Linked DNA regions of Homo sapiens. The protein of the gene in region 1 purifies or fractionates together with the protein of each later gene. This does not show direct contact. Each region holds a gene or a part of one and is shown in the gene's direction. Other genes may lie near its edges. The genes, in order: NUP43, TPRKB, CCT6B, RGPD8, NUP160, KIF5B and KLC4.

What was found.
Region 2: the proteins of NUP43 (region 1) and TPRKB purify together in Homo sapiens (affinity purification with mass spectrometry; 4 studies listed by BioGRID and IntAct, with this or other methods). This does not show direct contact.
Region 3: the proteins of NUP43 (region 1) and CCT6B purify together in Homo sapiens (affinity purification with mass spectrometry; 3 studies listed by BioGRID and IntAct, with this or other methods). This does not show direct contact.
Region 4: the proteins of NUP43 (region 1) and RGPD8 purify together in Homo sapiens (affinity purification with mass spectrometry; one large-scale study listed by BioGRID and IntAct). This does not show direct contact.
Region 5: the proteins of NUP43 (region 1) and NUP160 purify together in Homo sapiens (affinity purification with mass spectrometry; 7 studies listed by BioGRID and IntAct, with this or other methods). This does not show direct contact.
Region 6: the proteins of NUP43 (region 1) and KIF5B purify together in Homo sapiens (affinity purification with mass spectrometry; 3 studies listed by BioGRID and IntAct, with this or other methods). This does not show direct contact.
Region 7: the proteins of NUP43 (region 1) and KLC4 purify together in Homo sapiens (affinity purification with mass spectrometry; 4 studies listed by BioGRID and IntAct, with this or other methods). This does not show direct contact.

The regions. Positions count from the first base shown.
Region 1 is NC_000006.12:149,726,673-149,729,529, reverse strand, and holds part of NUP43 (nucleoporin Nup43), read left to right. Parts: exon of another isoform or gene 1-11; coding exon of another isoform or gene 12-40; exon of another isoform or gene 41-969; coding exon of another isoform or gene 970-1,010; exon of another isoform or gene 1,011-1,050; intron 1,051-1,051; coding exon of another isoform or gene 1,052-1,140; exon of another isoform or gene 1,141-2,331; coding exon 2,332-2,561; 3' UTR 2,562-2,857. UniProt on the Homo sapiens protein: Component of the Nup107-160 subcomplex of the nuclear pore complex (NPC). The Nup107-160 subcomplex is required for the assembly of a functional NPC.
Region 2 is NC_000002.12:73,731,860-73,734,345, reverse strand, and holds part of TPRKB (EKC/KEOPS complex subunit TPRKB), read left to right. Parts: intron 1-1,641; exon of another isoform or gene 1,642-1,645; coding exon of another isoform or gene 1,646-1,762; intron 1,763-2,060; coding exon 2,061-2,183; intron 2,184-2,486. UniProt on the Homo sapiens protein: Component of the EKC/KEOPS complex that is required for the formation of a threonylcarbamoyl group on adenosine at position 37 (t(6)A37) in tRNAs that read codons beginning with adenine.
Region 3 is NC_000017.11:34,927,361-34,930,460, reverse strand, and holds the end of CCT6B (T-complex protein 1 subunit zeta-2), read left to right. Parts: intron 1-1,426; coding exon 1,427-1,499; intron 1,500-2,343; coding exon 2,344-2,413; 3' UTR 2,414-2,600; downstream 2,601-3,100. UniProt on the Homo sapiens protein: Component of the chaperonin-containing T-complex (TRiC), a molecular chaperone complex that assists the folding of proteins upon ATP hydrolysis.
Region 4 is NC_000002.12:112,395,646-112,399,145, reverse strand, and holds part of RGPD8 (RANBP2-like and GRIP domain-containing protein 8), read left to right. Parts: intron 1-867; coding exon 868-1,047; intron 1,048-1,140; coding exon 1,141-1,224; intron 1,225-3,500.
Region 5 is NC_000011.10:47,810,351-47,813,850, reverse strand, and holds part of NUP160 (nuclear pore complex protein Nup160), read left to right. Parts: intron 1-435; coding exon 436-535; intron 536-803; coding exon 804-969; exon of another isoform or gene 970-984; intron 985-1,421; coding exon 1,422-1,549; intron 1,550-1,626; coding exon 1,627-1,787; intron 1,788-3,500. UniProt on the Homo sapiens protein: Functions as a component of the nuclear pore complex (NPC). Involved in poly(A)+ RNA transport.
Region 6 is NC_000010.11:32,018,426-32,021,925, reverse strand, and holds part of KIF5B (kinesin-1 heavy chain), read left to right. Parts: intron 1-638; coding exon 639-700; intron 701-794; coding exon 795-904; intron 905-1,526; exon of another isoform or gene 1,527-1,966; coding exon 1,967-2,068; exon of another isoform or gene 2,069-3,363; coding exon 3,364-3,424; exon of another isoform or gene 3,425-3,500. UniProt on the Homo sapiens protein: Microtubule-dependent motor required for normal distribution of mitochondria and lysosomes. Can induce formation of neurite-like membrane protrusions in non-neuronal cells in a ZFYVE27-dependent manner.
Region 7 is NC_000006.12:43,066,131-43,069,630, forward strand, and holds part of KLC4 (kinesin light chain 4), read left to right. Parts: intron 1-175; coding exon 176-395; intron 396-865; coding exon 866-953; coding exon of another isoform or gene 954-1,022; exon of another isoform or gene 1,023-1,267; intron 1,268-3,500.

The DNA.
Region 1 (2,857 bases):
TTCTGAATTAGGAGAAAAGGCGCTCCCTCAACCAGGCTGAAACTACCACCAGTGTTGTTGCCAGAAACCTGGAGCAGGAAGGAGCTGCTTCTCCCTTCCGCCTTCCAGTCACCCACCATTAATACCTGCTATTGGCAAGGCCCATCTGGATGGCAGATGGCAAAGCAGCCTGGAAAGTGGAGTTTACCAACTTCTACCTCCTACAGTATATAGTGGAGCACAGCAAAGTGGAAAAGGAGGCCGGGCGCGGTGGCTCACACCTGTAATCCCAGCAATTTGGGAGGCCGAGGTGGGCAGATGACCTGAGGCCAGGAGTTCAAGACCAGCCTGGTCCAACATGGTGAAACCCTGTGTCTACTAAAAATACAAAAATTAGCTGAACGTGGTGGTGGGTGCCTGTAATCCCAGCTACTCTGGAGGCTGAGGCAGGAGAATTGCTTGAACCCGGGAGTTGGAGGTTGCAGTGAGCCAAGGTCACGCCACTGCACTCCAGCCTGGGCAACAGAGCAAGACTCCATCTCAAAAAAAAAGAAAAAGGAAAATAACATGGCCAAATACACTGCTAATTACCATGAAGAAGAATACAGCAGAGTAGGAGGATAAAGAATAAAGACAGGGGTGAGGGGAGCTACTCTAGTGAGAGTCAGAAGAGGCCACTTGGCAGAAGGAACATTTGAGCAGAGACTTAAGAGAAGTGAAGGCATAAGTGACATGAAAGCATTCCAGGCAGAGGAAACAGCAAATGCTGAGGGCCTGAGACAGGCAGAGAACTGCAAGGACACCACGGTTGGAGCTCAGGCAGCAGGGTACAGTGGTGGGAGATAAGGACTGGTGGCTGAGGAGCCCTGGGACTTTGTAGCCCATGATAAGGACTTTAGACTTATGGGAGGGGGAGGAGAAAAGTGGAAAACAGGGAGATGAGGAAGGAGTCTTATCACAGTGGCTTGAATAATGTGTTAATCTTTACAGCGTCCAAGAGCAATGTAAAATGTAGGGGCAGTAAAAGATAAACAGAAAAACTAAGGGGAAAAAAATTCTAAAACTTCTTCAGAAAAATTCTGGAGCGGAGAGCATGTGTGGAGCATGCATGCATGTCCATGCTATAACTTCATCTACAGAGAAACAAACAGTTTCATCTAAGGATTAACTAAGTATGTACTTCGTTTTTACTTCCTTCCTCCCCTAACCGCACAGTCTTGAACTTGCAAGTTTACTTTTAAGGAACCTTGGTTAGACTGGAAATAAAACTTTATTCTGTGTCTACTATTGCAAGGCACAGTATTAGACACTGTGAAAAAGTAAAACATATAAAATATGCATCCTGCTCTTAAGACATATTTAGTCATGGACAGAGGCATGGATAGTTCAATTAGGATATAAGAATTGTTATAAAGTAGTAAATTAATGGTACATACAAGTGCTGAGGGTTCAAGGAAAGAGAAAAACATGAAGTAGAGGTTGTCTTCAAAGTTTTCTTAGAGAAGGAAGTTCAGCCATATTTTAAAGGATCAGCAAGATTTTAAATGTACTAATCTTTAAGCTTCAAGACATAGGGACTTGGCACAGAGCACTTAGCACAGAGCCTGGCACATAGTAGGTACTCAGTCATTTGTTGAGTGAATTAAATTTGTACTTATTTGATATGACAGCAAGTTGAGAGGAAAGTAAGTTGCGAATAATGACTAAAATTGAAATATACTGCCTCTGCCTCACTTTATTCTATAGTAAGTACAGTGCGCTGTTAGAGATAAAACCTTATAATCTAGTAGTGTTCTAATCTGCTTGTAAGAACATTTATCTAAAAAGCATAAGAATGAAAGATTTGAGGTAAGGCGATTATATTTTAAGAAATATAGTAACAAATATATATTTAGAAATATATTTCTAGAAATGTTCATCTAGAAATATGTCTAGAAATTCTTTCTCATGATCATTTTATTTTGTTATTACCCAAGAGTTTATATTTCCATGTATTACCTACATTTTTGGTTTCTTTTTTTTCTTTCCTTATTCAACTTGTATGCTGGCCGTTTTGCTACCTTTCTGAGACTTTCCATTAAAAGATGAACAGAAAGTCAGTTGAAATCACCTGCTTTTCCTGAAGACTTCGAGTTTGGTATCCATATTATCCCATGGAAATTTGAATATTTAATATCACTGAATAAGCCTTTGGTCCAAAGTGGTGATGTATAATAATGGAATTATTAGCCTATTATTCTGAGAATTAAACACATTGATATCATCACCTTTCTAAATATCAGTAGAAGTTTGAATGTTTACTAATATAAAAATCATCTTGAAAGATTTCTTCCTTTTCTTTTTTTCTCCCAGGAGGAAGAAGCAGTACTTTTTTGTCTCATAGCATTAGTAACCAAGCTAATGTTCACCAGTCTGTCATTAGCTCCTGGCTCAGCACTGATCCTGCAAAAGACCGAATTGAAATCACAAGCTTACTTCCCAGTAGGTCTCTGTCTGTGAACACTTTGGATGTTTTAGGTCCTTGTCTTGTTTGTGGAACCGATGCAGAAGCAATTTATGTTACTAGACATCTTTTTTCGTAGAAGTACTATAATTATAAGATTTCAGATAGAACATGCAATTAGCCTTTTGAAATCCAACTTCTGTGCAAAATTTTAGTATCAGAAAATACGAGATTTGCAGGGGAAACATCAGTAAACTACCATTAATGTCAATGCCCAGTTTTGACTTTTGTTAGCCTGACACTCCCAAACAGTTGTAGAATCCGATAGATGACTGATGGCAAAAGATTGTGAACATGTGGAAGAAAATCAGTGGGATTCTGGTGCTGATGAATAGGTTGCCTTCAGAGTATTATTGACAGACAGCTTGTGGAACT
Region 2 (2,486 bases), on another chromosome or scaffold:
GGGTGGATCATCTGAGGTCAGGAGTTGAAGACCAGCCTGGCCAACATGGTGAAACCCTGTCTCAACTAAAAATACAAAAATTAGCTGGGCGTGGTGGCGGGCGCCTATAATCCCAGCTACTCGGGAGGCTGAGGCAGGAAAATCATTTGAACCCTGGAGGCAGAGGTTGCAGTGAGCCAAGATTGCGCCATTGCACTCCAGCCTGGGCGACGAGCAAAACTCTGTCTGGAAAAAAAAAATGGCCAGGCATGGTAGCTCACGCCTGTAATCCCAGCCCTTTGGGAGGCCGAGGCAGGCAGATCATGAGGTCAGGAGTTTGAGACCAGCCTGGCCAATATGGTGAAACCCTGTCTCTACTAAAAATACAAAAATTAGCTGAGCATGGTGGTGGGCACCTGTACTCAGGAGACTGAGGCAGGAGAATCGCTTGAGCCTGGGAGGCAGAGGTTGCAGTGAGCCGAGATTGTGCCACTGCACTCCAGCCTGGGCAACAGACCAAGAATCCGCCTCAAAAAAAAAAAAAAAAAAAAAGAATGAATGAGCCATACAGGGCATTTAAGTATACATTAATATTTGTGATGTTATAGGGTAGCCTAAAAATCTGTCACGGTTAGGGAAAAAATTCTTGTCCAAGTCAGATGCAGCCAACTTTGACTATAACAGTGAATAGAGGCAGAAGTGCCAGGTCCTGCCCTAGGAAATAGGAAAGGTTGTGGTCTGGGTCTAATATGGGAAATGCCTGGATCTCCAGCTTCTCATCTTTAAAATGGGGGTTCCTAACAAGACAGTCTGTAGAGGAGGAATAGTGTAGTGGTTAAGAGTACACACAGAGGCCAAGGTGGGTGGATTGCTTGAGGCCCGGAGTTTGAGACCAGCCTGGCCTACATAGTGAAACCGTGTCTCTACTAAAAATACAAAAAGTAGCTGGGTGTGGTGGTGTGTGCTGGTAGTCCCAGCTACTCGGGAGGCTGAGGCACAAGAATCATTTGAACCTGGGAGGCGGAGGTTACAGTGAATTGAGATTGAGCCACTGCATTCCAGCCTGGGCAATGGAGCGAGAGACTCTGTCTGTCTCCAAAAAAAAAAAAAAACAAAAAAACAGGGCACACGCAGTGCGATCATGTTACCGGGAATTAATCCCAGACCTACTACTTAGGCCTTTGAACAAGACATAACCAACCTTTATATAGTGCTTACTGCATTCCTAGCATTGTTCCAAGTGCTTTACGTATACTAACTTGCTTAATCTTCACAACAGCCTATGGAGTGAATACTGTTTCATCGGTCTCTAACAAATAAAATGCTAATGAACTTGCATAAGTTTCCTAGGTGATAGGTGACAGAGATGGGATTCAAACCCAGACATTCTTTGCCTCAATTTCCTCATCAATTACATACTACTACTACTGCTACTACTACTAATAATAGTGTCAATTTCATAGGGTAGTTTTGAGGATTAAAGAAAATATTACAAGTAAAATGTTTGCAATATGATCATGCCCATAATATTAGCCCTCAATTAATGTTATTTAAAAAAATTTTACTATTTGCATAAGTTCCTTGCAGCTTTAAAATTCTGTGATTTCCTGACTACCCAGGCCCTTGGGATAATAGTTGTTTTTTGTTTTTTTTTTTTTTGAGACAGTTTCACTCTTGTTGCCCAGGCTGGAGTGCAATGGCGCGATCTTGGCTCACGGCAACCTCTGCCTCCCGGGTTCAAGCAATTGTCCTGCCTCAGCCTCCTGAGTTGCTGGGATTACAGGTGCGTGCCACCACGCCTGACTAATTTTTGTATTTTTAGTAGAGAGGGTTTCGCCGTGTTGGCCAGGCTGGTCTTGAACCCTGACGTCAGGTGATCTACCCACCTTGGCCTCCCAAAGTGCTAGGATTACAGGTGTGAGCCACCGTGCCCAGCCGGGATAATAGTTTTGAAAATACAGACCGTAAGAATTGTGATGAAGTAAAACAGCTTGACACTGGAGTTAACCATGAGTTACCATGTGTTTTCAGGCACTGCAGATTCTCCATGTGTAATTAATTCTTTTTCCTTGCTTTGGTAGATTGTTGATCCATTTCAGATACTTGTGGCAGCAAACAAAGCAGTTCACCTCTACAAACTGGGAAAAATGAAGACAAGAACTCTATCTACTGAAATTATTTTCAACCTTTCCCCAAATAACAATGTAATGTGCACTTTCCTATTTCTGTTGACCGTGTCATAATAACATATGTGTTCCTCAGTGTTGGGTTGGAGGCTAAATTCCTGCAAGCCAGTGGTTAGTAATAAACCCAAATAATAGTGAAGAGAGCTCTGGACAGAGAGTTGAGGTTTAACCCTGCCTCTTACTAAGACAGTTTACATATGAGTAAACAAAAATTTAGCTAAATTAAGCGAGGTTAATTTTATCTGTTCTTACCATATAGGGTCAGGAAGACCCCTCAAGTATTTTTGCTTGAGAAGCTGACAGAAATCTAAATGATAAAAC
Region 3 (3,100 bases), on another chromosome or scaffold:
TTCTAGGGAAAGAGAACAGCCAGTGGAAAAGCCAGTGTCTGATGTTTCTGAGGAAGGAGGTGAGAGAGGTGACAGAAGGTCAGATCATGCAGGGGCATTTGGACCAGTCTCAGGACTTTGGCTTTTACTTTAGAGGAGCAGGGAGCAATTTTGAGCAGAGGTGTGACATGGCCTAATTAATTAATTTATGAGACAGTCTCGTTCTATCACCCATGCTGTGGAGTGCAGTGGCACGATCTTGGCTCACTGCAACCTCTGCCTCCCAGGTTCAAGCAATTCTCCTGCCTCAGCCTCCGGAGTAGCTGGGAATATAGGTGTCTGCTGCCACGCCCGGCTAATTTTTGTATTTTTAGTAGAGACAGGGTTTCACCATGTTGGCCAGGCATGTGGCCTAATTATGTTTAAGAGAATCACTCTGGCCACTCTCCACTTTGTAGAGAAGTCAACTGAACAAGTAGAAGGTTGGAGTTGCAATCAACTGTGGTGGAGAATACTGGCTGGAGCAGGTTGTGGGTGAGAGGACATCAGCATTCAGTTTTGGCAGAGTCAAAGTTGAAGCATCTGTAATCTTTTAATTAAAAAAGTTGGATATATGGGTCTGGAGTTCAAGGAAGAGGTCTGGGTTGGAGATTAAAACCTGAGAGTCAGGCCAGGCGCAGTGGCTCACGCCTGTAATCCCAGCACTCTGGGAGGCCAAGGTAGGTGAATCACTAAAGGTCAAGGGTTCAAGACCAGCCTGGCCAACATGGTGAAACCCCATCTCTACTAAAAATGCAAAAATTAGCCGGGGATGGTGGCAGGCCCCTATAATCCCAGCTACTTGGGAGGCTGAGTCAGGAGAATTGCTTGAACCCAGGAGGTGGAGGTTGCAGGGAGCCGAGATGGCACCACTGCACTCCAGCCTGAGTGACAGAGCAAGATCTCTGTCTCAAAAACAAAAACAAAAAACACCAAAAAAAAAAAAAAAAAGAAAGAAAACAAAAAACAAAAACACCCAAAAAACCTTGAGAGTCATCAGATGTGTATGGTTTAAATCTAAAAGTCTGGATGAGATCACCTAGGGATTAAGGGTAGAGAGAAAAGAGGCTGGGACTGAACTTTTGGGTACTCCAACGTTAAGAGGTCAGGGAGGAAGAGGAAGAAGCAGCAAAGTAATCAGAAAAGGAGCCACTAATGCAAAAGAAAGAAAACCAGAAGAGTGTGGTATCCTGGAAGATAACATAGAGTAGGCGGCAGAATGTGATCAACTGTGTTAAATACTGGTAGATGAGGTCTGAGAATCAACCATTGGATTTAACAATATGGAGGTCATTGATGACCTTGACAAAAGTAGTTTTGGTAATGTATTAAATATTTTTAGAAGATATCAATTAATATTAATAGCAAATACTAAGATTTTGGTATGAAAATTGTTTTTACTTTTCAGGTGAGCCAATGGTAGCAGCAGATGCAGGAGTTTGGGATAATTATTGTGTAAAAAAACAACTTCTTCACTCTTGGTAAGTTCATATGAACATAAAGTGAAAGACCTGTAGAGTTATAATTGATAATATTAAGATGAAATTTTTTCTATTATTTTTGTCCCTGTACAGTGGAAAAATTGTCAAGTGTATGAAAGGTGTGGTATTCAGTTATTAGAACTAGCTTCTGTCATTTTATAGTCCATAGTCCCTTTTATATTTTAGATCTAGCAGTGTTAAGTTCTAAGAAAAATTAACCTTACTATTTGAGGGGGAAAGAAAAGGGGAAATTTACTGAAATAATAGCACATGCATGATGGAGAAAATCAAATGATATTGTAAAAATAAGCTCAATTTTGCTGAAATATAAATCAGGAATGCACTTTATCAGCAAAGGAGTTTAAATTATAATACAAAGGGTGACATTTGGGCCAGTGCGGTGGCTCACACCCGTAATCCCAGCACTTTGGGAGGCCGAGGCGGGTGAATCACCTAAGGTCAGGAGTTCGAGACCAGCCTGGCAAACATGGTGAAACCCTGTCTCTACTAAAAATACAAAAATTAGCCAGGCGTGTTGGTGGGTGCCTGTTATCCCAGCTACTCGGGAGGCTGAGGCGGGAGAATTGCTTGAACCTGGGAGGCAGAAGTTGCAGTAAGCTGAGGTCTTGCCATTGCACTTCAGCCTGGGCAACAAGAGTGAAACTCCATCTTGGGAAAAAAAAAAAAGGTGACATTTGTATTTGTATTTATAATAGCCTTGTCTCATAAAACATCATACTAACATCATTAAAGAACAAAGTACCCTACATAGGTAAAGATTGCTGGGGAAAAAAGCTAAGAGTGGGTTAGTAGGCTTTACTCACCCTCTCATCTTTTTCCTTAGCACAGTGATTGCCACCAACATTCTCCTGGTTGATGAAATTATGCGAGCTGGGATGTCTTCTCTCAAATGATGATTGAATTCAAAATCAACCCTTCTAGAAGATGAAATTTAGTACACTTTACATCTGACTACTATTGTGTAGCCTGAGCCATTCTGAATTTCTACACAATAAATGCAGTTTATGTCTTTTGGGTCTTAATAGTCTCAAAAATATTTCATCAAGGTATAAAGAACACAATAAATACTTTTACAGTAAAGGAATAATATTTAAATATTTCCCCAAGAGTCCTAACTCCCCACTCTTTGTTATATGCTATTGCAGTTTTTATAGCATAGGATCTTTATGATACTTAGACCTTTTGACAAGTTTTAATTAACAAAATAGAGGTTTTAGTACACCCAAGTAAATTTCCAATTTATCAGAGGGTATAAATATAGTAGGACAGAATGTTTCATTTTCTCTCAAAATTCTTTCAGTGACTTTTTGCTGCCACTCTTTCCTCTTATAAATATGGCGTGTAGCTTTGGGTTGCATTGTTTATAATATCTGACTCAATTTATTTTGTATATCATTTATTATATTTTATCTGGCTGTTTTTGTATGTATGATCAACAATTTATGCCACTGTGCTAGCTCTGGTAGCTCTCTGTCTAGATGGTGAGATAGAACAGGTCTCATCTGGAAAGAGAATTATTGACACCAATGGTGGGAAATAATTATTTTTGGCTTATAATACAACTGTTCAGTATAGATATT
Region 4 (3,500 bases), on another chromosome or scaffold:
GTAATTTCAAAAATACTCAGTAATATGTTGTTATTAATGCACAGAAGGGATGCGTGTGTCTAAATGCTTAGATTTGCTTGCTTTGTCTTAGGTTTGGTGTGTCTTTTTAAACTTGGGAATCTAGGTATATGCTCTTAAAAAGTACTTCTTGGGGAATTAGAAAAGATTTCTAAGATAAGACATTGATTTTGTTATCTTAGCAGTGTAATCAAAACAAATATTATAACCTCAGGACTAATTCTTAATGAACTTTGCTGAAATTGAAAGTTGTTGCTGACAACTTAAGAGCATTTCTTCTCATCGTCATCAGCCATTATGAACGCCCTTGTTTTCTTGCTGTCAGCTGTTTGAGATTGTCATGATGATGTTAAATTATGTTCAGTCTTCTGAGTGTTTTGTTGATTAATTTGTGTTACTACTCTTTTATTAGGATTTATGTTGTCTGGTGTATTGTAGCATCTGTATTTCTGTCACCATTGAAAATCAGTTAGAAAACATCAGTAACTTATTTTGTTCACTTGGAAAAGCTTTCCAAGTTAACATTCCTCTACAATTATCATGGTTAACAGAAGTAATAGAAAGAGCATGGACTTTAGAATCAGAAGATGTTAGACTGTACAACACTTTTCTGTGTTCCTGAAGAAAAAAATAGAATAAAGACAAAAAAATAAAAATAATAATACAAAACAACAGAAAAACAAAGAAAAAAGATAATTAAAAAACACTTTCACGTGTATTATTATTTAAAGTGTAAAGTGCTTATTAAAGTGACAAAAATGTAAATAAGATAAAATATATCATTTTAGAGTTTTTACTTTTGGAATTTTTTGCAAATGAAAGCCCTTAATTAATGTCTTTTATTTTTAGTTGCCTGTGCCCCTGGAGTCTGTAAAACAGATGCTTAATTCAGTCATGCAGGAACTCGAAGACTATAGTGAAGGAGGTCCTCTCTATAAAAATGGTTCTTTGCGAAATGCAGATTCAGAAATAAAACATTCTACACCGTCTCCTACCAAATATTCACTATCACCAAGTAAAAGTTACAAGGTAAACAGGAAAGAATGGAATCATTTCATTGTGAAATTGTTTCTGTTCTAAGTGTTTTAAATGCTGTTTTGTTATTTTTATTTTTTTTTTCAGTATTCTCCCGAAACACCACCTCGATGGACAGAAGATCGGAATTCTTTACTGAATATGATTTGCCAACAAGTAGAGGCCATTAAGGTAAGTCACTTAATTTCTCTAGCTGTACTTTTTATTCCAAGATTCCTTCCCTGGCTACTCTCTCACTTTTTTTCTGAAGCTGGTCAGAATGTCCCCTTGCCATCCAAATAGTATGGCAAGGGGACATTTTGGTCTTTTTTTTTTTTTTTTAAGACAAGGGTCTTGTTCTGTTGTGCAGGCTGGAGTACAGTGGTATGATCACAGCTTACTGCGGCTTCAACCTCCTAGCTCAAGAGAGCCTCTTGGCTCAGCCTGCCACGAAGCCAGGACTACAGACAGTCACATGCCACCAGGCCCAGCTAATTGTTGTATTTTTTGTAGAGATGGGATTTTGCCATGTTGCCCAGGGTGGCCTTGAACTCCTGGCTCAAACAATCCTCCTGCTTCAGCCTCCCAAAGTGCTGGGATTGCAGGTGTGAGCCACTGTGCCCAGCCTACATACCTCGGTCTTGACCCTTTACCATATTTTGTTTTGTTTTGTTTTGAGATGGAGTCTCACTCTGTTGCCCAGTCTGGAGTGCAATGGTGTGATCTTGGCTCACTGCAACCTCCACCTCCCAGGTTCAAGTGACTCTCCTGCCTCAGCCTCCCGAGTAGCTGGGATTACAGGCACCCGCCACCAGGCCCAGCTAATTTTTGTATTTTTAGTAGACACAGAGTTTCACCATGTTGGCCAGGCTGGTTTTGAACTTCTGACCTCAGGTGATCTGCCCACCTTGGCCTCCCAAAGTGCTGGGATTACAGGTGTAAACCACCGCACCCAGCCCTTTACCATATTTTTGAAAGTACTTTATGTGTCTCTCTCCTCATCTTCCACAAAATTTGAGACCTTCAAAGGTAGAAACTGTTTTATTTAAAATATAAGAGTTCCTGACACAGAGAAGGTTCCCGAGTGATTGAAGTGCTACAATGTACTAATCATACTCTGGTCTATGAGTTCATTCCCAGATTAGCTGTGGATTACATGTGTTTCAAATGTATAGCTAGGAATCGAAAAGTGGTCTGAGCTTCAAAAAGTCTTACTATATTTTAATACTTCCATATGAATTTGACTTAATTATGTAAGGAAATAGTTATGTATATATATCTTATTTTAACAATAGGGTTCAAAGGAGCTTGACTTTTTTGGAATTGGAAATAAAAGTAGGTTCTTTCATGTTTATCAAGCAAGAACTAAATTACTCATACTGCTAAAGTTACATCAAGGATATGCTGATGTGTGGCGATTATTACAGTGTGATCAGCAGCATTTGCAAATTAAGAGAATACTATTTGGTGGGGAAGACATTTTTGAATTTGCACAAAAATTTTGAATGTTAATTCTGTGTAGTCGTGGCCTATGACAATTACATACAATTTTGACTTAACATACAGGTTTCAGGCTCCCAACATTGTATTCTGTGGAAGTATAGTGGAGCACTAGTCCATGAGCTTGAAAAGCTTGGTACTAGTACTGACTCTGCCATTAATTAATGATCTTGGGCCAGTCACTTCCTTTGTGACTGTTTGGCTTCTTATCTTTAAAATGAGAGAATTATTGAAGCCAGTTCTCATCACACTGAATGTTAAAAATTACAGTTACAGCAGTGATTGCAAATTCAAAGCTCTGGTGCGGATACCAACAGTGACTATAAAGTTTTCTAGGTGATTCCACTAGTTTCTTATTTCTTGGATGTGTATGTGTAGCATCTGGACTAGGCACTGTAGATGGATGAATGGGGGAAATTTTATTTAGCTTGAAAATTGAGATAGTTTTGGACCTCATGGTTAGGTCTTTCTGGGAAATTTTTAATTGAAACACTTGTAGAAACAGAAAGCAGACATGCTAGATCTGTCCCTGACCTCACTTGTTAGAACTGATCGGATTCCTGGGCTGATACAGAGAAGTTTGAAACTTTTCAAAATTTACCTGTTTTCTGATACCACTACAATTTCTTTGGAAAAAGAATTTCCTGTTAAGTGTCTGTTTTGTAAGGGGACATTTTGTAGGTTCTAGGGTGTTGGGTATGGTGCTGTCATTTAGTTTTCTTCAGCAGAGATCAGGTAGCCACATAGCTACACTAGACGGCATTGGATCTATCTGCCATCTTGTCAAGGCAGCAGAGTTGTGTTAAGAAAACATTTTTGGAGTCAGATGTGTTTCAAATTCCAGCTGTTATTCCCTGCATCCGTTTCTCTCATTTTAAGATAGGAGCTAATATTGTTTACCTAACAGTGTAGATGGTGTAAAAATTAAGAGTTTAAGTGCATTGGACGTATTATTATATACATAATAA
Region 5 (3,500 bases), on another chromosome or scaffold:
ATCCACCCACTTCAGCCTCCCAAAGTGCTGGGATTACAGGCGTGAGCCACTGCGCCCGGCCCAGTGGCACTCTTAAGGCTCACTGCAGCTTCAACCTCCCAGGCTCAGGTGATCCTCCCACCCCAGCCTCCCTAGCAGCTAGAATTAAAGCTGTGTGCCACCACACTTGGCTAATTTTTTTTTTTTAGAGATGGGGTTTCATCATGATGCCCAGGCTGGTCTTGAACTCCTTGGCTCAAGTGATCCTCCCACCTCAGCCTCCCAAACTGCTGGGATCACAGATGTGAGCCACTGTGCCCAGCCAAGACTTACACCTATTATTTTATAGAGTGTATTGCAACTTGGGTTTGCCTCATGATAAGATGCACATCTCAATTATTTTATACCTTTAAAATTTTACTGACAAAAATGTAACTGGAAAATTTGTATTTCCAGGGGTACCTGTCTTTCCTTATTCCCTCATCCTTAGTGGATCATTTGTATCTCCTGCCTTATGAGAACCTTTTGACAGAAGATGAGACAACCATATCTGATGGTAATAGTAATTGTTATGTCCATATTTAATCCCCTTCCTATATAAACCCTATGCTTCGTTTCACATGGATACAAAAAATATCGATTGCCACACCTGTCTTGGTCACTTTACCACACCACAAATATTTTAATGAACACTTAAGAGACCAAAGCATCTCTGAGACCTCAGATAGATTTCTTGTCATTTAATTATTAACATTTTAATGTAATATCAATCAATAGATTGTCATTGGCTTAAGACATAAATGTTAACTTTCTCTTATTTGTAGATGTGGACATCGCTCGGGATGTCATATGTCTTATAAAATGCCTCCGGCTGATTGAAGAGTCAGTAACTGTGGATATGTCAGTTATAATGGAAATGAGTTGTTATAACCTACAGTCTCCGGAAAAGGCTGCAGAGCAGATTCTGGAAGATATGATCACTATTGATGTGTAAGGAGAATTAGGGTAAAGTGCATTTCCTAATGGAAATTCAGCATTTTTAGCGCCAAAGTTGGAATTTTAATGTATGTTCCAGAGCGTACAGAATAGTAGCTTAAAGTCAAACTGATGCGCCATGATTCTAAGTACATATTTCTACTTTTAACAGAAAATTTAACACGACTTCAAGTCTAGAAATAGACTTATAAAATATGCTTTAACAATTAACCGAGCTAAAAATTCTAAAAAGCAAAAGTGTTCTTCTCATGTTTGTTTTGTGTGTTGTTTATGAAAAACTGAGAGGAAATTTGCTATGCATAGGGACTGTATCTTATATGCCAGAGTGATTATCTTCATTCCTTTATCTGGTTCTCTTGTTTCATAATGTATTTAGCTTATAGGACATATAGAACTTGCCTTACGTATTCTCGGTAGTAATAAGAGTTTTGTAATTGTCCTTATAGAGAAAATGTGATGGAGGATATTTGTAGTAAACTGCAAGAGATTAGGAACCCAATCCATGCAATTGGACTACTTATACGGGAAATGGATTATGAAACAGAAGTGGAAATGGAAAAGGGATTCAATCCAGGTAAATGACAGAACAACAAATGTGCCTCTTTGATTAAAACAATGATGCATTCAACTCCATTTTTCTTCTTTTTACAGCTCAGCCTTTGAATATTCGAATGAATCTTACCCAGCTCTATGGTAGTAACACAGCAGGGTATATTGTGTGCAGAGGGGTGCATAAAATCGCCAGTACTCGTTTCCTGATCTGCAGAGATCTTTTGATCTTACAGCAGCTGTTAATGAGGCTTGGAGATGCTGTAAGTACTGCTTGAGGGAAAACTTGTAAAATCTAAAACCTGTTATAGGCCTACAAGCACTTAGGAGCAAAATGTCAGCCCTACTAGCACAGATACTTTTGTCTTGGTTCACTGCTTTATTCTCCCAAGCTTGGCCTTATGAGATGCTCTATAAATATTTTTGAATTAAGAATGAATAAGCATTGTAATCCTTGTGAGAGTATAGATTAAGAGCATATATGGAGGGGACGGTGGGGAGGGAGAACATCAGAAAGAATAGCTAATGGATCCTGGGCCTAATACTTAGGTGTTGGGTTGATCTGTGCAGCAAACCATCATGGCACACGTTTACCTACGTAACAAACCTGCACATCCTGCCCATGTACCCTGGAACTTAACAGTAGATTTTAAAAAACATACATGAAGCAGATTGCTTTACTCTTAACCTTTGTATGTGTAGTAGTGGAAAATTTTCCCAAGTTGGCTCTCCCAAAATGTAGTATTATTAGTAACTATGAATGTGGTAAGCATACCCTTTAGTATGGAGGAAGAAAAAGAAAACTCTTTTTTTTTCCTGTCTCTCTCTCTTTTTTTTTTTTTCTTGAGACAATCTTGCTCTGTTGCCCAGGCTGGAGTGTGGTGGCCTTATCTCAGCTCAAGCAATTCTCCTGCCTCAGCCTCCTGAGTAGCTGGGATTACAGGTGCGTGCCACCGTGTCCGGCTAATTTTTGTATTTTTAGTAGAGACAGGGTTTCACCATGTTGACCAGGCTGATCTTAAACTCCTGACATCAGGTGATCCACCTACCTCGGCCTCCCAAAGTGCTGGGATTACAGGCATGAGCCACCTTGCCCAACCTAAGAACTCTCTACAGTGCAAGGCTTACCCTAAACACAGTTTTGAGATGCAGGTTTATCTTTGTGGTCCTCCTAACTCTATTCTGTGCTTTCTTTTTCATTCTGTTCTTCTTAGACCACCAGACTCTTGTTGCTAATATATAGTCCTAATCACCCACCCTACTGAATGTCCCATGCTAAGAAATTATTTTTCTCCCCACAGTCAGACATCCCATTTTTTTCTAAGTCAGTAATCTCATTTGAGCCTGTCAAAGAAGGAATCTAATTAAACCAATTCATATTAATGTGTAAATAGCCAAAAGTCCTTTGGGGCTCCCATTTTAATTCTGACTTAAAATGTATAAATGTACTTATACATTTTAAGTCAGAATGTATTAACTCAGGCTGGGCACAGTGGCTCACACCTGTAATCCCAGCACTTTGCGAGGCTGAGGTGGGCAGATCACTTGAGGCCAGGAGTTCGAGACCAGCCTGGCCAACATGGCCAAACTCCATGTCTATTAAAACAAAAAAGTTAGCGGGGTCTGGTGGCACACTCCTGTAATCCCAGCCATTCAGGAGGCTAAGGCATGAGAATTACTTGAACCCAGGAGGCAGAGTTTGCAGTGAGGCAAGATTGCACCACTGCACTCCAGCGTGTGTGACAGAGCGAGATTCTGTCTCCAAAAAAAAAAAAAAAGAAATTATAAACCCAGATACATCGCTAATGGTAGAATTTCAAGCAAGAGTAAGAAAAAGGCCAGATGTGGTGGCTCATACCTATAGTCCCAGCACTTTGGGAGGCCAAGGTGGCCTGGTTGCTTGAGCCTAGAAGTTTGAGACCAGTCTGGGCAAACCCTCATCTCTACAAAAAAATACAAAAATTAGCCGGGCATGG
Region 6 (3,500 bases), on another chromosome or scaffold:
ATCTTGACTCACTGCAACCTCCACCTCCTGGGTTCCAGTGATTCTCCTGCTGCAGCCTCCCTAGTAGCTAGGACCACAGGCACATGCCCCCACGCCTGGCTAATTTTTTACCTTTTTTGTAGAGACAGGGCTTCACCGTGTTACGCAGGATGGTCTTGATCTCCTGACCTCGTGATCTGCCTGCCTTGGCCTCCCAAAGTGCTGGGATTACAGGCATGAGCCACTGTGCCTGTCAAAACATATATATATATATTTTTAAGATTTTGTTTGAATATGGAAATAGCCAATCTGGGGATTTCCCACAGTTACGAAGCGGGGTGTGTGTGTGTGTGTGTCTTAACATAGGGGACTTAGGAGTTATCTCATTTCTTTACCATTCCCTTAACTAATCTGTTCTGGATTAGGCCAAAAAAAAAAAAACCAAACAAACCATAAAGGAATACATAATACCAACACAATGGATGTAACTTGTATACTAGTCTACATGTCATTGAACTTGGAGAGCAGGTGACATTTGGGTAATTTGAAGTTGAATATTGCTAAGGAAAATGCTTATTGTAAAATCCATTTGCTCCTTGGTTTATATGAGGAACCTTAAAGGCTTATTTCACTCTTCTATTTTCTCTCTATTCAAACAGAGAAAGTCCATGAAATGGAAAAGGAGCACTTAAATAAGGTTCAGACTGCAAATGAAGTTAAGGCAAGTTTGATGTCACATTTCTAACAGCTTTAATTAATCAGTATTAATTTTGATTAGTCTGACTTTAACATCCTTTTCCCCCCCAAAATTTTAGCAAGCTGTTGAACAGCAGATCCAGAGCCATAGAGAAACTCATCAAAAACAGATCAGTAGTTTGAGAGATGAAGTAGAAGCAAAAGCAAAACTTATTACTGATCTTCAAGAGTAAGTATTATACTTCTCTAGTTAGGAGGAAAGAATCGGTTACTGATGGTCATGGTATATATTCTTATTAGAAACCTGCAGTTTTCATCAAAATTACATTTTTATCTTGGAAAATAAAGAATTTTCTCATTTATGAGTAAAACTTCTAAATTCCAGGTGAAATTTTTGAGGCTTTTTTTTAGGTCTTTTGATCTAAATTATTCAGTAAAAGAAAAAAATCCCCAACCTAAGTCTATTATTGCATACCACAGTCTTCTCCAAATCCTTTATTTAGTTTCCTTTTTTAAAAAAATTCTTGGCTGGGTGCAGTGGCTGATGGCCTGTGACCCCAGTGCTTTGGGAGGCTGGGGTGGGAGGATCACTAGAAGTCAGGAGTTCAAGACCAGCTGGGCAACATAGTGAGACTCCATCTCTACAAAAAATAATTTTTTAAATTAGCTGAGCTTGGTGGCACATGCCTGTAGTCCCAGTGACCCAGGAGGCTGTGGCACGAGGATTGCTTGAGTATTGGAATCTGAGGCTGAAGTGAGCTATGATTGTACTACAGCCTGGGTGACAGAGCGAGACCCTGACTCAAAATTCTTAACTGGGAAAAACTTTTCTGGAAATTCTATGGATTTTCAAAGGTTTTTTTTTTTTTAAGTTGTCATCTTAGTTTATCTAGAAGCAATTTCCCTGCCTCCATAACCATGTGCACATACATAGAGTTTATGGAAGTCAGAGTTTGCAACAATTTGAGTAGGAACCAAGAAGAGAATAACATAACAAAATAATGATGAGGTTTGGGGCGTAGGTCTTACTATGAATACCTGATGGAAGTAGGCATAAGGATTCAGGAAGATGAAAGACAGAGGAGAACAGAATCATGATTTCAAACCAAAATACGAAAAATTTTGTATGTCCACAAGTAGCCAGGTCCCTTTCCTCTTTTCCTCCATAGGGTATAGGATAACAGAAAAGTCCTTGATGAGATTATAGAATTTAAAAGTTTGGAAATTTTAATGATGACATTGAGAAAACTGTGATATTGATACTGTGTTAATTATTTTTTTCTTTCGTCAGCCAAAACCAGAAAATGATGTTAGAGCAGGAACGTCTAAGAGTAGAACATGAGAAGTTGAAAGCCACAGATCAGGAAAAGAGCAGAAAACTACATGAACTTACGTGAGTAATTGTTTTTAATTAAAGTTTAAAAATAAAAGCTAAATTAGAGGATTATAGGCATTACCTTTGGATATAGCCAGTGGATACATATTTTACTTTGTATGGGCTAAAGGATTTTTTCTTAAATCCACTGAGTTGGTTTGATTTATATCTAAATACTTGGAATATATACTTGCATTTGAGTGAAAGCAAGGTCTTATATTTCATTGTGGTTAAGATTAAGGTTTCTCTTTATTAATCTGCTTGCTGTTTCTTTATCTCCATATTACTTCAGGATCCAGCATAAAAATGAACCTAAAACAATATATTAAGTAACTTCGAAGATTTTAAGATCTAACACAAAAACTGAGTTTTTGTTAAATTTTCTCTTGCATAAAAGAGCATTGTGGTGTTTAGCCTTGCCATTTTGAACAGAGGTTTTCATGGTTTACCTTTTCTCATTTTCTCAAAACTCAGTTTTCTAGAATCTTAGCAGGTAGAAAGTGCATGATTATAATTTTTCACATACCTTGAGTTTGTGAGACAATTTGCAAATCAACTGATATTGTTAGGATAGTTAGAACATCAGGACCAGTTCAGAGTGGATTATATGAAGATTCTGCTAACTTGCAGCTGTAATTTTGTTTAGAATACTTGTAATGTAAAATATTTTAGTCTTTGACAGTTTATAATCTATAATTAATCAGTATCATTTTGGATAAATAGCAGTATAATACATGTGGCATATTTTAAAATATAAATTATAGAACTATTCCTTATTCTTTGAATTCTGCCACATTTTATTTCATCTCTTCCATTGCTATATATGGAATGTATAACAATAGACTGTTGTTTAGAAGGCATATGAAAATTTTTTGAAATTGCAAAGCTGCAGTGGCTCACACCCATAATCTCAGCACTTTGGGAGGCCAGGGCAGGAGAATCAGTTGAGCCCAGTGTTTGAGAATCAGCCTAGGCAATATAGTGAGACCCCGTCTCTACAAAAATTTTTTTAGACAGGGCTGATTGTACATGCCTGTAGTCCCAGCTATTTGGGAGACGAGGTGAGGAGGATCACTTGAGCCCAGGAGGTTGAGGTTGCAGTGAGCAGTGTTTGGGACAGAAACTCTGTGTCAAAAAAAAAAAAATTTTTTTTTTGAAAGACAGCACAGGTAAATTGTTTAAAATAGGCATCTTGTATTTATTTAAATTTAAGAATTTATCCTTTCAGACACAAAATATTTTATTCAACTCTCATGCTAAGTACAATATACAGAATAAAATTTGAAAATATATGTTTGTTCTTCTACTGTTAGGGTTATGCAAGATAGACGAGAACAAGCAAGACAAGACTTGAAGGGTTTGGAAGAGACAGTGGTAAGAAAAACATGAAAATAAACAGGATTGGGAAATATTTTGTGGGTTTTTTCTACCATGATTATTCTAAATTTAA
Region 7 (3,500 bases), about 110 Mb from region 1:
GTGATGGGCATAGGTCAAGGGAGTGGATAAAAGAATAGCACTTGAGGCAGGTCTAATATTGAGAGTCCAGGTTGGGGTGGGCACAAGTATGGAACAAGACATGCAATGGGGAGTGGAAGGGCAGACAGCAAAGGGGAGAGGAAGAGTCCTTTGTTTATGTTCTGTGATGGTTTAGTGTCCCGTGGTCAAGGTGCTACAGCAGCTCAGCAGGGTGGATATGAGATCCCAGCAAGGTTGCGGACGTTGCACAACCTGGTGATCCAGTACGCAGCCCAAGGTCGCTATGAGGTGGCCGTGCCACTCTGTAAGCAGGCACTAGAGGACCTGGAGCGCACATCAGGCCGTGGCCACCCTGATGTCGCCACCATGCTCAACATCCTTGCTTTGGTGTATCGGTGAGGACTTCCCTCCTCCAGTGCCCAGATCTTCCCCCACATTCCCACCTTGGTCCTCCTTTGGCTTTCATTTTTCCTCTTTACAGGGTACCTCTCCTCCCTGTTGGGCCTCCCAGATACACCCCAACAGGGTGCTTCTTTATGTGCCAGAACTCTCACTTTTCCCATACCTAAGCATTTGCTCATCCCTTGGGATCCTTGTTCCTCTAATCTCTCTTCTGGGGAGTGCTCTCTCCCTCTCTTCCCCCTGCCCCCTTGCTTCTTATAACTTGTGGCCTCCTCTTGGGATGGCAGTGCCCTGCATTCTGGTATGAGTATGTCAGTGAAGCCCCCTTACTGTCCACGCCAGGCTTCCTGTCTCCTCATGGAGGTCTCCAATCCTTAAATGTACTCAGTCCTTCCAAAGGGAAGGAGGGAAGGAGAAGGCTTGCGGGTTCAGGGTAACTCCTGTCACTTTTGTCTTCTTCCAGTGACCAGAATAAGTATAAGGAAGCTGCCCACCTGCTGAATGATGCCCTTAGCATCCGGGAGAGCACCTTGGGACCTGACCATCCTGCTGTCAGTATTCCTTGCCCTCCCCACCCCACGCCCCGCACCCCCCACCATTGCTGTTTTGGCCTCTCTTAGCTCATCCATCTGCTGCCCTCAGTCCACTCACTAAGGGTGCTGAGGAAGGAGGCATAAGAAGTCCTTTCTTCCAGGCACTGTCCAGTGATCCTAATGATTCTCAATTCTCTGAGACTCAGTGACTCCTTTTTATAACAAATATTTTGCTTGAATTTAATTAATAGATAAGTCATAGGTAAATCCACATATGATTTCTACAAAACTTAATATGCTACTCTAATAAATATAAAAGAAAAACAAGAAAAGTAATTTGTAAGGACAATATATACAATGTAATATAATAAGGTAAAAATACAAAACAACAGTAGTTGTATTGAGTACAACTTTGTTAAAAGAAATAGCAAAGTGGCCTGGGCACAGTGGCTCACGAGTGTAATCCCAGCACTAATCCCAGCACTTTGGGAGGCTGAGGAGGGTGGATCACGAGGTCAGGAGATCGAGACCATCCTGGCTAACATGGTGAAACCCCATCTCTACTAAAAAAAATACAAAAAATGCCGGGCGTGGTGGCGGGCGCCTGTAGTCCTAGCTACTCGGGAGGCTAAGGCAGGAGAATGGCGTGAACCCGGGAGGCGGAGCTTGCAGTGAGCTGAGATCGTGCCATTGCACTCCAGCCAGGGTGACAGAGCGAGACTCCGTCTCAAAAAAAAAAAAAAAAAATGAAAATATAGGTGGACAGGCCGGGCGCGGTGGCTCACGCCTGTAATCCCAGCACTTTGGGAGGCCGAGGCGGGCGGATCACGAGGTCAGGAGATCGAGACCATCCTGGCTAAAACGGTGAAACCCCGTCTCTACTAAAAATACAAAAAATTAGCCGGGCGTAGTGGCGGGCGCCTGTAGTCCCAGCTGCTTGGGAGGCTGAGGCAGGAGAATGGCGTGAACCCGGGAGGCGGAGCTTGCAGTGAGCCGAGATCCCGCCACTGCACTCCAGCCTGGGCGACAGAGCGAGACTCCGTCTCAAAAAAAAAAAAAAAAAAAAAAAAAAAAGAAAATATAGGTGGACACTTTATTAAAGTACAGTATTATAAGAAATCACAAGGGTCGGGCACAGTGGCTCATGCCTGTAATCCCAGCACTTTGGGAGGCCAAGGTGGGCAAATCACGAGGTCAGGAGTTCAAGACCATCCTGGCCAACATGGTGAAACCCCGTCTCTACTAAAAATACAAAAATTAGCCGGGCGTGGTGGGGGGCACTTGTAATCCCAGCTACTCAGGAGGCTGAGGCAGGAGAATCACTCGAAACCAGAAGGTGGAGGTTGCAGTGAGGTGAGATCGCGCCTCTACACTCCAGCCTGGGCAGCAAGAGCAAAACTCTGTCTCAAAAAAAAAGAAAATAAATGACAGACCAGATTTATTTGTGTATAAGAGGAAGAGACTGGGCTTGGTGGCTCACGCCTGTAATCCCACCACTTTGGGAGGCCAAGGCAGGTCGATCACCTGAGGTCAGGAGTTTGAGACCATCCTGGCCAACATGGTAAAACCCCGTCTCTACTAAAAAAAAAATATAAAATTAGCCAGGCATGGTGGCATATGCCTGTAATCCCAACTATTTGGAGACTGAGGCAGGAGAATCATTTGAATCCGGGGGTTGGTGGTTGCAGCGAGCCGAGATCGCACCACTGCACTCCAGCCTGGGCAACAGAGCAAGACTCTGTCTCAACAAAATAAGAAGCGGCCCAGCGCTGTGGCTCACTCCTGTAATTTCAGCACTTTGGGAGGCCGAGGTGGTCGGATCACCTGAGGTCAGGAGTTTGAGACCAGCCTGACCAACAAGGTGAAACCCTGTCTCTACTAATAATACAAAAATTAGCCAGTTGTGGTGGCATGCACCTGTAGTCCCAGGTACTCGGGAGGCTGAGACAGGAGAATTGCTTGAACCCAGGAGGCTGAGGTTGCAGTGAGCCAAGATCGCACCATTGCACTTCAACCTGGGTGATGGGGTGAGACTTCATCTTAAAATAAATAAATAAATAAATAAATATAAATAAAAGGAAAGAGAGAAACAACCTTAAGTAGAGATATCACGCCAAGGCAAATGATAGAGTTGTCAATGTACAGAAAATGAAAAATGAAAAGTTTGTTTGTTTTGTTTTGTTTTGTTTTGTTTTTTGAGATGGAGTTTCGCAGTGTCACCCAGCCTATAGTGCAGTGGTACAATCTGGGTTCACTGTAATCTCTGCCTCCCAGGCTCAAGTGATCCTCCTGCCTCAGCCTCCCAAGTAGCTGGGATTACAGGTACGTGCTACCACGCCAGGCTAATTTTTGTATTTTTAGTAGAGATGGGTTTTCACCATGTTGGTCAGGCTGGTCTTGAACTCCTGACCTCAAGTGATCCACCTACCTCAGCCTTCCAAACTGCTGGGATTACAGGTGTGAGCCACCACACCCAGCTGAAAAGTTATTTATTTTTTGTTGAGATAGAGTTTCACTCTTGTTGCCAGGCTAGAGTGCAACATGGCACGATCTTGGCTCACTACA